Linked DNA regions of Homo sapiens: region 2 is linked to region 1. A link means that fine-mapping ties the variant in region 1 to the expression of a gene that starts in the linked region. Tissue or cell type: minor salivary gland. Region 1 holds a variant in brackets; the other region holds the start of a gene. All regions are shown on one strand. Distances are from middle to middle.

Region 1 (8,099 bases):
TGCACAGATGTGGGGAACTGGTGCGAGTCTTCAGAGCTGGCGGAAATGGGAAGCGGAGTAACTATTTTGGCAGAAAAATACGTAACTTCCCTGCGAACCGGAATCCCACGTGTACACATCCAGAGAGTTCCCTTTGTGGGTTCATGAGGGGACGCACGCAAGGGATGTCCCAGCAATGAGAACATGGAATGACCTGAATGAGAGCGGGGGAGGGGCCACCCGGGACAAAGCTGCAGGGACAAGGACCACTCATCCTCTGTTGCAACTTGCAGGCTCAGGAAGAAGGGTCTCCCCCGTCTACTGGAGTTCTTGACACTGGAATTTGGGGCTTGTCACAGGCCTATTCAGAAAGGGGCCTGGTCCTGAGAAATAATAGGGTATTGAAGGCTTGTGGCTATAATGCTGCCTGTAGTTCCAAAGCTGGAAGAGGCAGCCCACAAGCAGACAGGGCGCCGTTTCTCCTGTGTAGGTGGAGACTGGGCATAGTGGCTCACATCTGTAGTTCCAGCACTTTGGGAGGCCAAGGCAGGAGGATCGCTTGAGCTGAGCCCAGGAGTTTGAGACCAGACTGGGCAACATACTTTACTGGACATTTTGGGGACATTGGGAAAATTTGAACATGGGCTGGCTATTAAATGAGATTACAGAATTACTGTTAATTTTCTTAGGTGTGGTTATGTGCAGTGATGGTCTCATTCTTGAGAGGAGGGCTGCGACACTTGGGGAGATGTGTTACCAGCTGCAAATCACTTCCAAATGGTTCAGCCAGAAATACAACATGTAGAGAGCATTTCGGAGAACAGGACAACAGCGCGGCAGCTGCTGAATTCAGGTGGATATGGAAGGCGTGGTTTTTTTTTTTTTTTTGAGATGGAGTCTCGCTCTGTCACCCAGGCTGGAGTGCACTGGTACAATCTCGGCTCACTGCAACCTCTGCCTCCCAGGTTTAAGCGATTCTCCTGCCTCAGCCTCCCAAGCAGCTGGGATTACAGGCGCTTGCCACCACGCCCAGCTGTTTTGTATCTTTCATAGAGACGGGGTTTCACCATCTTGGCCAGGCTGGTCTTGATCTCCTGACCTCGTGATCCACCCTCCTTAGCCTCCGAAAGTGCTGGGATTACAGGTGTGAGCCACCGCGCCCGGTCGGAAGTAGTTGTTAATATTCTCTATGTTGGAAGTTTTTTGTAATGGAAAGTTGGAAGCAAAACAAGATAGGAAGCAAGGTGAACGCTGCAGAGTTCGACTGCGTCAGACGGACCAGAAGGCCGACTGCAGGCGGGCAAGGGCTATGCGGTGGCGGTAGTGGTTTGATACCTGACATTCCAGTAGAATGCACAAAAGCCTTTACTGAAAGGGCAGGAAGTCACAAGGCTTTCTGTAGGAAGAACACATCCCTGTTCCACTGGCCCTTCCCCCGTGAGCTGGGGTGGGAGCTTCTCCTGTTCCACTGGCCCTTCACCCGTGAGCTGGGGTGGGAGCTTCTGGGTGTAGCCGGTTGCTCCAAGGCCTCTTCCCAAGTTCCAGGTTTACACAGGAGGCCTCATGGCCACCTGTCCCATCACCAGGGCCTAAAACCTGGTTGCTCTTCCTGTGGTTTGGGGAATTGTGGGCCTGAGTGATGTGGTTCTTCTGTCGAAGCTGGGGGACTGAACCACCCTGACTTGGGTGGTGCAGAGTCAGGGAACACCAGATTTGTTTCTTCCAGCTGGGGCTTGGAGAAGCAAAAGGTGAGTACAGAAGATAAGCAATAAAACCATACTGTGGCCAGGCGCGGTGGCTCACGCCTGTAATCCCAGCACTTTGGGAAGCCGAGGCAGGTGAATCACAAGGTCAGGAGATCGAGACCATCCTGGCCAACATGGTGAAACCCCATCTCTAGTAAAACACAAATAATTAGCCGGGAGTGCTGGCGTGCACCTGTAATCCCAGCTACTTGGGGAGGCTGAGGCAGGGGAATCGCTTGAACCCGGGAGGCGGGGGTTGCAGTGAGCCAAGATCGCACCACTGCACTCCAGCCTAGCAATAGAGCAAGACTCCGTCTCAAAAAAAAAAAGAAATCATAACTGTATTTATTTGCCTCCAGTAATTTTTATCACTCTGCTTGATCCCAGTTACATTACTGAGGGTAGTGAATTCCATCTATTTTTTTCTGTAACTTAAAAGTATTTTTGGCCGGGCGCGGCAGCCGGTGGACCCATCCCAGCACTTTGGGAGGCCGAGGCGGGCGGATCACGAGGTCAGGAGATTGAGACCATGTTGGCTAACGCGGTGAAACCCCGTCTCTACTAAAAATACAAAAAAATTAGCCGGGCACGGTGGCGGGCGCCTGTAATCCCAGCTACTCAGGAGACTGAGGCAGGAGAATGGCATGAACCCGGGAGGCGGAGCTTGCAGTGAGCCGAGATAGCGCCACTGCAGTCCAGCCTGGGCGAAAGAGCGAGACTCCATCTCTTAAAAAAAAACAAAACTATTTTTGCCTTGTCTTAAATTGATCTCTAGCAGTGCCTTTTTCCCCACACCCACGTATTATTTCAGGGGTCAGTGACATTTGATGACGTGGCTGCATATTTCACAAGGAGGAAATGGATGCATCTAGCTCTTCACCAAAAGGCGGCTGGAGAACTGTGGGAACTTGACCTGGCTGGGTAGGCTCTGCCCTCTCCCCTGCCCCTCTCCAGGCTCTCTGAGTACTTCACTTGTTGAGAATGAGGGCAATTCCACATCCTTTCTAGACCTAGAAACTAGACCCTTTCTCCACGTGACAGACCTGAGCTCCACAGGGAGGAAAGAGGCTGGGCCTGAGGTAGCCCCTCTCTCCAAGTTCCCTATAGATGTTGCACCATGGAATTCCACTCATGCTTGGCAGGACTTGCTGTCTCCCCAGCATGATTTGGTATAGTCCTGATGAATCTGAATTTTTTTTTCTTTTCTTTTCTTTTTTCTTTTGAGACAGGATTTCACTCTGTTGCCCAGGCTGGAGTGCAGTGGCACAATCATGGCTCACTGCAGCCTCAACCTCCCAGGCTCAAGTGACCCTCCCACCTCTGCTTCCCATGTAGCTGGGACTACAGGCACGAGCCACCACGCCTGGGTAATTTTTTTGGTTCTTTGTAGAGACAGGGTCTCACTCTGTTGCCCAGGCTGGTCTCGAACTCCTGGGCTCAAGTGATCCTCCTGCCTCAGCCTCCAAAGTGCTGGGATTATAGGCATGAGTCATTGTACTCAGCCAGAGTCTGAACCGTACAGGCATGAGTCATTGTACCCAGCCAGAGTCTGAACCTTACAGGCATGAGTCACTGCACCCAGCCAGAGTCTGAACCT[TACAGGC/T]ATGAGCACTGCACCCAGCCAGAATCTGAACCTTACAGGCATAAGCCCCTACTCCCAGCCAGAGTCTGAACCTTACAGGCATGAGTCACTGCACCCAGCCAGAGTCTGAACCTTACAGGCAGGAGTCACTGCACCCAGCCAGAGTCTGAACCTTACAGGCATGAGCACTGCACCCAGCCAGAGTCTGAACCTTACAGGCATAAGCCCCTACTCCCAGCCAGAGTCTGAACCTTACAGGCATGAGTCATTGTACCCAGCCAGAGTCTGAACCTTACAGGCATGAGCCCCTACTCCCAGCCAGAGTCTGAACCTTACAGGCATGAGCACTGCACCCAGCCAGAGTCTGAACCTTACAGGCATGAGCACTGCACCCAGCCAGAGTCTGAACCTTACAGGCATGAGTCATTGTACCCAGCCAGAGTCTGAACCTTACAGGCATGAGCACTGCACTCAGCCAGAGTCTGAACCTTACAGGCATGAGCCCCTACTCCCAGCCAGAGTCTGAACCTTACAGGCATGAGCACTTCACCCAGCCAGAGTCTGAACCTTACAGGCATGAGTCATTGCACCCAGCCAGAGTCTGAACCTTACAGGCATGAGCAGTGCACCCAGCCAGAGTCTGAACCTTACAGGCATGAGCACTTCACCCAGCCAGAGTCTGAACCTTACAGGCATGAGTCATTGCACCCAGCCAGAGTCTGAACCTTACAGGCATGAGCAGTGCACCCAGCCAGAGTCTGAACCTTACAGGCATGAGCAGTGCACCCAGCCAGAGTCTGAACCTTACAGGCATGAGCACTGCACCCAGCCAGAGTCTGAACCTTATAGGCATAAGCCCCTACTCCCAGCAAGAGTCTGAACCTTACAGGCATAAGCCCCTACTCCCAGCCAGAGCCTGAACCTTACAGGCATGAGCACTGCACCCAGCCAGAGTCTGAACCTCTTAATCACCTTGCACTCTTTTCTCCCTTTCCCCTTCTTTCTCCCTCAGCCATGACTCACCCTCATCCCTCCCCACCCCGGACATAGTTTTATCTTTAGAGCCCCTACCTATTCCACCATCCTGGGCCTTCCTACCTGGTCCAGCTGAATCTCTCTGCCTGCTCTCTGCAGACCGTAGGCTTTGGTTCTCAGCAGAAATGCACGTGTTGTGTTTCCATCTCTGCCAGCAGAATTTTCAGGCCTCAAACCTGACCTGATCTTCTAGCTGGAGAGAGAGGAAGAGCCATGGCTGCCAGATGTTCCAGGGACTGAAAATACAGACACACAGAGATGCTCCTTCCCAGGTGAGAAGAGGGAAGCAGTTCTGGAGGAGGCAGTAGTGGGATACATTAGGAGACATAACCTGAAAAAACAGAGCCAGGCGGCTGCGCGCGGTGGCTCACGCCTGTAATCCCAGCACTTTGGGAGGCAGAGGCAGGCGGATCACAAAGTCAGGAGACCATTCCAGCTAACACGGTGAAACCTCGTCTCTACTAAAAATACAAAAAATTAGCTGGGCGTGGTGGCAGGCGCCTGTAGTCCCAGCTACTCGGGAGGCTGAGGCAGAAGAATGGCATGAACCCAGGAGGCAGAGCTTGCAGTGAGCCGAGATCGCGCCTCTGCTCTCCAGCCTGGGCGACAGAGCAAGACTCCGTCTCAAAAAAAAAAAAAAAAAAAAAAACAGAGCCAGGCTGGGCACGATGGCTCACACCTATAATCCCAGCATTTTGGGAGGCCAAGGCGGGTGCATCACTTGAGGTCAGGAGTTCGAGACCAGCCTGGCCAACATGGCAAAACCCCGCCTCTACTAAAAATACAAAAATTAGCCAGGTTTGGTGGCATGTGTTTGAAGTCTCAGCTACTCACGAAGCTGAGGCAGGAGAATCGTTTGAACCCGGTAGGCGGAGGTTGCAGTGAGCTGAGATCACACCACTGTACTCCAGCCTGGGCGACAGGGCGAGACTCTGTCTCAAAAAAAAAAAAAAAAAAAAAGACGGGTGTGGTGGCTCATGCCTTTAATCCCAGCACTTTGAGAAGCCAAGGTGGGTGGATCACTCGAGGTCAGGAGTTCGAGACCAGCCTGGCCAACATGTGAAACCCGTCTCTGCTAAAAGTACCAAAAAAAAAAAAAAAATTAGCTGGGCATGGTGGCGTAGGCCTGTAATCCCAGCTACCCAGGAGGCTGAGGTAGGAGAGTCACTTGAACCCGGGAGGAGGAGGTTGCAGTGAGCCAAGATCGCACCACTGTAGTCCAGCCTGGGTGACAGAGCAAGACTCCATATCCAAAAAAAAAAAAAAAAAGAAAGAAAGAAAGAAAGAAAGAAATTAAGGGAAACAATTCCATTCACAAGAGCATTAAAATGAATAAAATATTCAGGAATAAATATAATCAAGAGGCAAAAGACTCATAAACTGAAAAACTACAAAAGATCACTGAAAGAAGTTAAAGAACACATAAATAAATGGAAATACACTTGCTGTTCATGGATGGGAAGACTTCATATTGTTAAGGTGACAATACTACCCAAAGTTATCTACAGATTCAATACCTATCAAAATCTTAATGGTGTTTTTTGTACATATAGAAAAACCCTTAACTGGGCGTGGTGCCACGAACCTGTAGTCCCAGCTACTCAGGAAGCTGAGATGGAAGGGTCGCTTGAGCCCATGAGGTCGAAGCTGCAGTGAGCTGAGTTTGTGCCATGGCACTCCAGCCTGGGTGACAGAGTGAGATCCTGCTTCAAAGAAAAAAAGAAAAAAAGGACTATCCTGAACTTCATATGGAATGGCAAGTGACCCCAAATAGCCAAAACAATCTTGAAAAAGAACAAAGTTGGAGGACTCACACTTCCTGATTTCAAAACTTAATACAAAGCTACAATAAAAAACAATGTGATACTGGCATGACAGGAAATAAAATGTAATACAATAGAGAGCCCAGAAACAAAGCCTTGCATATATTATCAGTTGACTTTCAGCAAGGATGCTTAGACCCTTTGTCGTTTGGGTCCCACCAAATTTTGTATGTTGAAGCCCCAACCCCCAGTGTGGGAGACAGTGGCTGTGAGAAGGTGACACAGGTTAAATGAGGCCATAGGGTGGGGCCCTAATGCAATAGGGCTGGTGCCTCTAAAAGAGGAAGAGACACCAGAGATCTGTCTCTCTCCACCATGTAAGAACACAGCAAGAAGGCAGCCATCTGCAAGCCAGGAAGCGAACCCTCACTGGGAACTGAATCGGCTGGCACCTTACCTTCCCAGCCTCCGGAATTGTGAGAAATAAATTTCTGTTGCTTATGCCAAGCCACCTAGTCCGTAGTATGTTCTTATGGCAGCCCAAGCTAATACATCATTCAATTGGAAAAGGAGTCTATTCAATAGATACTGGCTGGGCAAGACAGCTCACGCCTGTAATCCCAGCACTTTGGGAGGCCAAGGCAGGCGGATCACTTGAGGTCAGGAGTTCAAGAGCAGCCTGTCCAACGTGGTGAAGCCCTGTCTCTACTAAAAATAAAAAAATTAGCTGGGCGTGGTGGTGCATGCCTGTAATCCCAGCTACTAAGGAGGCTGAGGCAGGAGAATCACTTGAACCCGGGAGGTGGGGGTTGCAAAAAACTACAAAAGATTCACTGAAAGAAGTTAAAGAACACCTAAACAAATGGACGGATCCGCCCAGCTCAGCCTCCCAAAGTGCTGGCATTACAGGCGTGAGCCACCATGCCTGGACAAAACAGTTAAATTACCGTATGATTCAGCTATTTCACTCCTAGGTATATAGCTAAAAGTACTTGAAGTAGGGATTCGAAAACATATTTTCACACCAGTGTTCACACTAGCATTATTTACAATAGGCAAAATGTAGGAACACCCAAGTGTCCAACAACAAATTAACGGATAAACAAAATGTGCTACATACATACGACATAATATTACTTGGTTATAAAAAGTAATGGAAGCCGGGCGCAGTGGCTCACGCCTATCATCCCAGCACTTTGGAAGACTGAGGCGGGTGGATCACAAGGTCAAGAGATCAAGACCATCCTGGCCAACATGGTGAAACCCCGTCTCTACTAAAAATAAAAAATTAGCTGGGTGTGGTACTGCGTGCCTGTAGTCCCAGCTACTCGGGAGGCTCAGGCAGGAGAATCGCTTGAACCCGGAAGGTGGAGGTTGCAGTGAGCTGAGATCGCACCACTGCACTCCAGCCTGGCGACAGAGTTAGACTCCATCTAAAAAAACTAAAAGTAACAGAGGCCAGGCACAGTGGCTCATGCCTGCAATCCCAGCACTTTGGGAGGCCAAGGTGGGTGGATCACTTGAGGACAGGAGTTTGAAACCAGCCTGAGCAACGTGGTGAAACCCCATCTCTACCAAAAAATACAAAAATTAGCCAGGCACAGTGGCATGCGCCTATGGTCCCAGCTACTCAAGAGGGTGAGGTGAAAGAGTTGCTTGAACCTGGGAGGGTGAAGTTGCAGAGCCAAGATCATGCCATTGCACTCCAGCCTGGGTGAGTAAGACCCGGTCTCAAAAAAAAAAAAAGTAATGGAGTTCTGAAACAGGAAACAACACAGAGAAACCTTGAAAACATTATGCTGAATGAACTAAGCCAGACATAGAAAGAAACACAGATTGCATGATTCCACACATATTTATGTTCCTAGAATAGGCAAATTCAAAGAGACAGAAAATAGAATTGAGGTTACCAGCAGTAGGGAGAAGGGGGAAATGAAGAGTTATTATTTAATAGGTACAGGGTTTCTGTTTGGAGTAATAAAACAGTTCTGGAAA
Region 2 (8,099 bases), 24 kb after region 1:
CAGAAGGGAGCAGAAAAACAGTGACCGCTTATGGCCAAGCTAAGCATCTAGTGCTTTCCCAAAACCCTCTTTCCAGATGCCCCTCCATCCTTCAGGAGGAAACACCGCCCTCCTGGATTCTTTCTCGACAAGTCAGCTGGGACCCTGGGACCGGCCCTGCGAATGACGAGATCAAAACCAGGTCCCGTAGTTACTGGCGGGGAGGCGGGGCTGGAGTGGGAGGACCACATGAGGCCAGGGGCTTGAGACCAGCCTGGCAATAGCGAGAGCCTGTCTAAAATAAACAGGCCCTGCTGGGTCACTGCCTAGGTGTGGTGGGCGCCCAAAGACAGGTGGGGCCATACCAGCAGGATCAGGAAAGCAAGATCACGAAATGGGGGGTAAGGTTCTCTAGAGACAGCGTGGACCATGACAGCCAGGAACCACCGCGCAGCCAGTTAGGACTTGTCATCCCGGAGTGACCACGGAAGCCTAAGGTGACTATTCTCACCTGCCAGGCACCCTCCAACCAAGTCTATAGGGAGAGACCGTGCCTCATCCTGCCTGCTGCAGTTCCACAGGAGTGTTGTTAGGGGCAGTGATCTGCAGCTGCTGCATTCGCTGGTGGAACTTCCTCGTGTGAAAGTGCTGATAGGATGCTGTCCTGGGATCTCCTCATTGGATCATGGTTAAGGGACAAGATGCCATGGGCTATGGCCAAACAGGAAGCCCCTCCACTCTGCCTTGTGACGGAAACCAGCTTACTTGCCCTCCCATTGCAGGGGGGGTTCCCCAACACTTCCAACCTGATTCCACTCAATCATCACTGTCAGCCTCATCACTACCAAAGCTAGAGAGAACCAAAGTATCAGCCCCTGCCAGCAGGGAAAGGCCATGTGCTTTAAGGTAATCAATGCAGCTTTGGGGGCTGTTCCTGGTTAGTTTCTCTGCCCCAGGGAAGAGGGGGCTACATGCCCTGCGAAGCTGTGGAGTTACAGGACTCAAGGAGCAGACCAACCTACTGCTGGTGCCAGCTCCAGTCCAGTGTAGGGCTCTGGGTGGGTGGGTGAAGGGACTTGGGTGGTCTGGGATTCCCCATACACACACTGCATGCATTCATCCCTTTGTTCAGCAATCCCAGCAGTGACCTGGGACCCCACACTCAATCACCACCCTCAACCTCACCTGTCACTATCAGGCTAGAAAATGAGGAAAGGCATGAGGCCCCACCCACCACCCACAGGAAAAAGCACCCAGAACCCTCCAGTCAGTGACCACTCCCCACCATGGCGGGGTGGGAATGCATGCAGAACAGAATGGTAAAAGCCAGGCTAGGAATGGCTTCCTGGCTGTAGACAGGGTGCCTGTCCCACATTCCTTCAGGGCCCATCCCAAGTTCCCAGTGCAAGGCAGACACCTGCAAGCCAGGTATCCCTGGCAGTGACTTAAACACACTGACATCAGCAGGGCTGTAGCCAGTATGGAGGGAAAGGGTGTCGCTAAAAGACCCTGGGCAAAGGACTGCCTCAGGTGCTGAGAAAGTTAGCAGGGAGCTGACAGAGTGAGGGTATGGTCCAGAACACCAGGCTCAACGATTGTGTCCTATTCTGTTTCCTGATACGTGAAATGAGTGTTCACATCCAAGCACTGCAGGCCATGGGACTGAGTCACCCACATAAGTGTCAGGTCCTGGATGCCACATTCTTGGTCCCCTCTGTGGGGAAGCAAGGGTCTTGCCCAGGGTACCTGCACCCCGTTTCTAGTTGTGGACTTTCCCTTCAAGCTTCTACCACTCACTGGTGGTCTACTTCAGTAGTCTAACTCCCTCCCAGTACCAACCAGGGGGATCCCACAGAAATCCTCCCAGCAGGGACCCCTCCCTTTGAAACCATGGGGGTGGGCACAGCCAGGTGGCATAAACACAAACTTTATTGAGGCCCTCAGCACTAGTTCTCTTTCTCCTGCACAGTCTTGGTTCCCCGGAGACGTCCAGTCCGGCGGGCAGCAATGAGACCCACTTTGCGGCCAGCAGGGGCATCTCTGCGGATGGTGGAGGGCTTGCCGATGTGCTGGTGGTTGCCACCTCCAAAAGGATGCTCCACAGGCTGCAGGCAGAGAAAGATGGCTTTAGAAACCTCTTCCCCACCACCCCCGCCCCCGGCCTCGGGGTCCCACCCGTCAGGGGCCCAATTCCGCGAAGCCCCTCTCCACAGCATGTGCCGCTAGACAACCCCAGTCAGGCTGACTCTTTCCAGCTCAGGCCCCCACTGCCCCTCCCAGCCTCCGTTTCTTGCGGAGAAACGGTGAAGGAGGGTGAGCCCACCTCCTTCAGGAGTGCTGGAGCAGGATCAACAGTCCCGTGACTACAAACCACCACCTGCTGCTCCTCCCACCGTAGATCCCCCTCCTGCAGGGACACCTGTGGATGGGACTTGCCTACCCAACAGTGTGGCCACTGTAACTTCAATACCCAACCCTGCATTTCTGGGTTACTTACATTCATGGCCACACCCCGTACTCGTGGCCAGCAGTTCCTCTTTGCCTTATATTTGTGGTACGCCCGGCCAGCCTTCAAGATGGGTTTGTCAATTCGGCCACCTCCAGCCACCACACCTGTAGGGGATCAGATACCTCAGGGAACCCCCAGTCGGTCAGAGCACCCCCACCTCCCCTCAATCTCCTGTCATGCACCTTCCCAATACTGCATCCAACTACCCAGCAAAAAGCCCACTCGCCTCCACCCTAGGGAGCCCCTTGCACCCTGTGAGCTGACATCCAGTTTCTTCAATCCACAATGGGCAGGCAAGCCAAGGCCCTCACCTCCATCACCTAGAATGCTGGCTGAGCTCCAAGCGCAGGGAAGCACCCCCCTCACCATGTGTGAGACGTCAGGCCGGCCACTCAACCTGACGTAAGACACTTGATTCAGCCTGCCCCATCTCAGCTTTACTTATTCCAGGAACACAACCTCAGAGCCTCCCCTGTGCGAGGCTGAGTTCATCACAAGGATTCCAAGATGTTCCCAAACAGCACAGTGAGTTAACCTAGACTCAAATCCTTTTTCACTCACTCAGTAGGCGTCTTTGAGAAAGCCACAATCTCTCCCTGCCTTCTCTAAAAAGGCTGTTAACCAACTGCATGCAAGTGCAGCAATCAGGAAGCCCACGGTAGAATCCAAGACCCTGGTGACTTCGTCCCAATCTCATTTAACGCCTCAACAGCAGTAAAGCAGGTACTGTTGTGCCTGTTGTACAGTGATGACAACTGAGACTACAGGATGAGCTCAAACTTACAGAACCCAAGTTTTAGAACAACAGGTAATCGAATTCCAGGGACCAAGTCTAGCCACTGGCTGTCCACCGGCACTCACAGCATGTTCACCCACAGCCCTCAGCATTCAACTGCTGCCTGATACTCACCAACCACAGCTCTGTTGGCTGAGGAGATAACCTTCTTGGAGCCGGAGGGCAGCTTCACACGGGTCTTCTTGGTCTCAGGGTTGTGGGAGATAACGGTGGCATAGTTCCCTGATGCCCGGGCCAGCTTGCCACGGTCTCCAGGCTTCTCCTCCAGGCAGCACACGATTGTACCCTCAGGCATGGTGCCCACAGGGAGCACATTGCCAATGTTGAGCTGGGCTGCAAGGGGAAGCAGCATCAGGCCGTCAGCACAGTAAGAAACAATGCGAACCCCCTCGCTCTAGGCAACCCGCGAAGTTGCGAGCACAGCATTCAACATCCAGCCTCCCGGTACAACTCTCTCGGCACCCACCGGTGGCCACTGGTCTGGCCACGCGGATGTCCCCACCTGAAGCTTCTGCCTGCGAGGTTCCCATATCGGCTTAGGACGTTAACTCCTCAGGCAACACCCAGACCCCTCCCCACCCCGACCTTCCTTCCCCGCCGCGATGCTAACCCTTCTTGCCGCAATACACAAACTGGCCCGTGTGAATGCCCTCGGCGGCAATGAACAGCTCCGTCCGCTTCTTAAACCGATACGGATCCCGGAAGACCACCTTGGCGAGGGGCGCGCCGCGGCCCGGGTCGTGGATGATGTCCTGTGGGCAGAGGCGGCGTGAGTGCGGCGTTCCGGCCGGGCGTCCCTTCCCCTCCCGCCCCGGCCAGCGTTCCGCACCTTGACGATGCCCTTGATGTAGCCGTGCCGCTCAGCGAAATCCACGGCGCGCAGGCGCGCAGCGCCTTTACGGTGCTTCACGTGCGCGCGGAACACAGACCCGGCGCCCTTCCTCTGTCCACGGATCACACGGCCCATGGCGACGGGTCCTGGGGGCGACTCACGATTAGCGCGGCCGGGCGGCCCGGGTACCCCCGCCAGCCCGGCTTTCCGGGACCCCGCCCCCGAGGCCGCCGCGCCCACCACTCCCTACCCTCTCCGCGGGCGCCCGCACCGGCATCCTCTCAGGAGGGCCGGTCCGGGTCTCAGCGCGCCTCACGGAAGAGGATGGCGGCGGATACTGCCCATGCCGCAAGGCCGCAAGGATGACCTACCTGTTCACCAGCGCGGCCGAAAGAGGAAACACGGCGTCAGCGAGCGGCCTTATCTTCCGGGGCGGGGCCCAGGGCCGCGACACCTTCCGGGCGCGCCACGGCCAGCCTAGCGCGGTGCACGCCGGGGCTTGTAGTCACCAGCGGCCGCCGGCCCCGCCTACTTCTCCTCCTCCAGGGCCCCCGCGCAGGCGCACCAGGAGACGCGGCTGAAGGTGTCCTGGTGTGCGTGGGCTCGGAAGGAGGGTGCAGGAGTGCTCGGCTTTCACCGGGGTCTCCGGGAGGGCAGGTGTTTTCTGAGTGGCCGAGGAGGCGCCAAGTGGTTGAGTGACCTGTCCAGGGTGTCACAGAGCGACCCACTCCGGGCCACGGGGTCTGGGGCTCCCGGCTTGCCTGGTGAGGGGCTTCCGTGTAGGCCGAGGGGGTTCTCGCTGGTGCAGAGCAGGAGATGGGCAGGGGAGACGCGTGGACCCACTCGTGGAACGTCATGGTTTGCAGGTGGCAAATGTCCGTCTCCCTGATGAACGGGCGCTTCTGGACGCGGGGACCTTATCCACTGTAGGCCCTTGGAGAGGTCGGGCGTCGAGGAGAGGAGCCCCGGGATCCTTGCCGAGGGTGAGGGCCGGCCGGCCCAGGAAGTGGGGAGGGCCAAGCTGGAGGGTCCCGGGTCGAGGAAGAAGGAGCGGGGATGGGCTGGGTCACATGCTGCGGAGTGGACGAATAATGGGAGACTGGACCGTACCCTGACCAGAACCCTGTGCGGGAGAGGTGGGGAAGGAGCAAGAAATGGAGGCTGGGAGGGGCTGTGGGGGCCTGAGCTGGAAAGAGTCAGCCCGACTGGGGGTGTCCTGCGGTACGTGCTGTGGAGAGGGGCTTCGCGGAATCGGGCCCCTAACGGGTGGGACCCCGAGGCCGCGGGTGGGGGATGGTGGGGAAGAGGTTTTCCAGGAGAGAGTCCCTGGCTGAGTGAGCACTGTCGAGCACACGCGAGGCCGTGGGTGGGGAGGCAGCAAGGAGGTGAAGGCGGGGGTCCCAGTGGGCGGGAGAGGCTTGCTGTCGGTACTGGGAGGTGGGGTGTTTCCTAGACCCTGCAGGGGCTGAGGCAGGGTTGACATCGTGAGAAGGAGACAGGAGAGGGTGGAAGGGTGTCCTGTGCCCGCTGTTGCTCACAGGGGAGAGGAGGGGCTGCTGCAGGAGGCCCTCCCCTAGGGTCGGCAGGGGGATGGAGGAGGAGCTGCCCGGTGGGGACTCAGGAAGCAGCACAGCCCACAGCTAGGGCCAGGGGCTGAGGGGCAGGACTGGACCCTGGGGGCAGGGTGAGGGGTTCTGGGGTCAGCCCAAAATTGGCCCACAGGCCCAGCCTGTCCGTCACTCCTGAACAAATCTGCTTCTCTGGAGGAGCAGAAGGAGAGTTGGGTGCGGGATAGAGGTGAGAAGAGTGCTTGGACACACAGGCTGTGGGGTCCCCAAGATGGTCTCACGGGTCTCTGGGATGAGATGCGGCTACCAAGACCCTACGTGCAGCCAGGAGACTGACCAGGCCGCTTTAAGGCTGGAAGAGACATGGCCCTGCCAGCATCCACCTGACAGTCCTGAGGACTGTGTGACTGGGCTCAGTCTTGACCTTCACGGGAGACCACACAGCCTGGTACACAGCAGGGGCTATGCAGTTCTGGGTCACTTGACAGCCACTCCAGACGAGGCCGCAAGCACTGGACATGGGGTTTTCCAGCCTTCTGGGGTGGAGCCATCTTTCTTAGGCCAGGATTAGTCCCTCCCCACACAGTGCCTCTGCTTGTGCTAGTGGCCTGGTGACCTCCCTTATGCCATCCGACGTCACCCCAACCTGCTGTTCAAACTTTATTGTTAGAAATTATTTATTTCCGGCCGGGTGCGGTGGCTCATGCCTGTAATCCCAGCACTTTGGGAGGCCGAGGCAGGCGGATCACCTGAGGTCAGGAGTTCCAGACTAGCCTGATCAATATGGACAAACCCCGTCTATACTAAAAATACAAAAGTTAGCTGGGTATGGTGGCAGGTACCTGTAATCCCAGCTACTCGGGAGGCTCAGGCAGGAGAATCACTGAAACCCAGGAGGTGGAGGTTGTGGTGAGCTGAGATTGTGCCATTGCACTCCAGCTTGGGAAACAAGCGCAAAACTGTGCCTCAAAAAAAAAGTTATTTCCTTCTGAAATTGTTCTTCAAATGTTTCTTGTCACATACATGCAGCAGTAATTTGGTAGAAACATGAGAAATTGTGATCCTCTGTCTTGCTCAGCTTGGCTCCCCTCCCCAACCAGCATTATCTGCCCGCACCCCCAATCCCCAACAACTGATGTGTCCTTATCTCCCTGCCCCCTACCGCGCCCCCGTAGCATAATTGTATGCCACATATGGGCACACCATCACATATGGCTAAAATGGGATCACTCCGTAATGAATGAATATATATATATATATATTTTTTTTTTTTGAGATGGAGTCTCGCTCTTGTTGCCCAGGCTGGAGTGCAATGGCGTGATCGGGGCTCACTGCAACCTCCGCCTCCCGGGTTCAAGCGATTCTCCTATCTCAGCCTCCCGAGTAGCTGGGACTATAGGCGCACACCACCATGCCCAGCTAATTTTTGTATTTTTTAGTAGAGACGGTGTTTCACCATATTGGTCAGGCTGGTCTTGAACTTCTGACCTTAGGTGATCCACCTGCCTTGGCCTCCCAAAGTGCTGGGATTACAGGCATAAGCTACCGTGCCTGGCCAATGCTAGGCACTTTTTATGGGCCAGGGACTGATCTAAGTACTTTTCATGCACACTGCTTTTCTTTTCTTTTTTTCTGAGATGGAGTCTCACTCTGTTGCCCAGGCTGGAGTGCAGTGGCGCGATCTCGACTCACTGCAACTTCTGCCCACAGAGTTCTAGCGATTCTCCTGCCTCAACCTCCCGAGTAGCTGGGATTACAGGCGCCCGCCACCGCACCCAGCTAATTTTTTGTATTTTTAGTGGAGACGGGGTTTCACCATCTTGGGCAGGCTGGTCTTGAACTCCTGACCTCGTGATCCACCCGCCTTGGCCTCCCAAAGTGCTGGGATTACAGGTGTGAGCCACCATGACCCACCTCATGCACGCTGCTTTTCTAATTTAGTGTCTTATAATTGTGGAGCTATGTCTTGTGAAAAGGTATTTCCAACAAGATTCTCTGAGATAGTTTTCCCATGTGCTTTCAGTGCCTCAGGGGTGGGGTAGTCCATAGGAGCCCCTGTTACCCATTCAGGAGTGGGTGAGGGGAGACCCCAGGGACCAATGCCAGCAGGAAGAGGTGGGGTGGTTGGGAGGATGGAGATTGCACATGCTTGGGGACAGCTTGGAGGTGCGTGTTAGAATTTTTCTGAGAGGGGTTAAGGTGCTGTTTTGTGAAGCACAACGAGTTAGTGAGTGCTAAATCTCCATGACCCCTGCCGTCTATATGGCTTGGATACGTCATGTCAACCTGACATAAAGCCATGGGTGAACATTCTCTGGGACCCCACCTGTGTGTGGGGAAAAGCAAGAGAGATCAGATTGTTACTGTGTCTGTATAGAAAGAAGTAGACATAGGAGACTCCATTTTGTTCTGTAC

The links. PIP is the estimated chance that this variant, and not a neighbour inherited with it, causes the effect.
Region 2: it holds the start of RPL8, and the variant in region 1 is fine-mapped to the expression of RPL8 in minor salivary gland (GTEx, PIP 0.97).

What each region holds. Positions count from the first base shown.
Region 1 is chr8:144,764,284-144,772,382 of GRCh38, forward strand. ZNF34 (zinc finger protein 34) reads right to left here. Exons shown (of 6, transcript NM_001286769.2): 6 at 7,941-8,099. It overlaps LOC107986986 (a long non-coding RNA gene), which reads left to right. Exons shown (of 3, transcript XR_001746149.3): 3 at 1-1,224. LOC105375805 (a long non-coding RNA gene) reads right to left here and starts at 7,582. Exons shown (of 3, transcript XR_001746148.2): 1 at 5,927-7,582; 2 at 4,378-4,534; 3 at 1,327-1,711. RefSeq lists enhancers at 921-1,524, 2,381-2,675 and a silencer at 4,061-4,355. The variant TACAGGC/T (reference allele first, on the strand shown) is at 3,322.
Region 2 is chr8:144,787,879-144,795,977 of GRCh38, forward strand. It overlaps RPL8 (ribosomal protein L8), which reads right to left and starts at 4,512. Exons shown (of 5, transcript NM_001317782.2): 1 at 4,114-4,512; 2 at 3,895-4,036; 3 at 3,399-3,617; 4 at 2,477-2,592; 5 at 1,891-2,084. The coding sequence starts at 4,251. The coding sequence ends at 1,926. MIR6850 (microRNA 6850) reads right to left here and starts at 4,113; the gene lies at 4,053-4,113. RefSeq lists enhancers at 1-7, 2,190-2,691, 2,692-3,191, 5,604-6,552, 7,846-8,099 and a silencer at 4,214-4,433.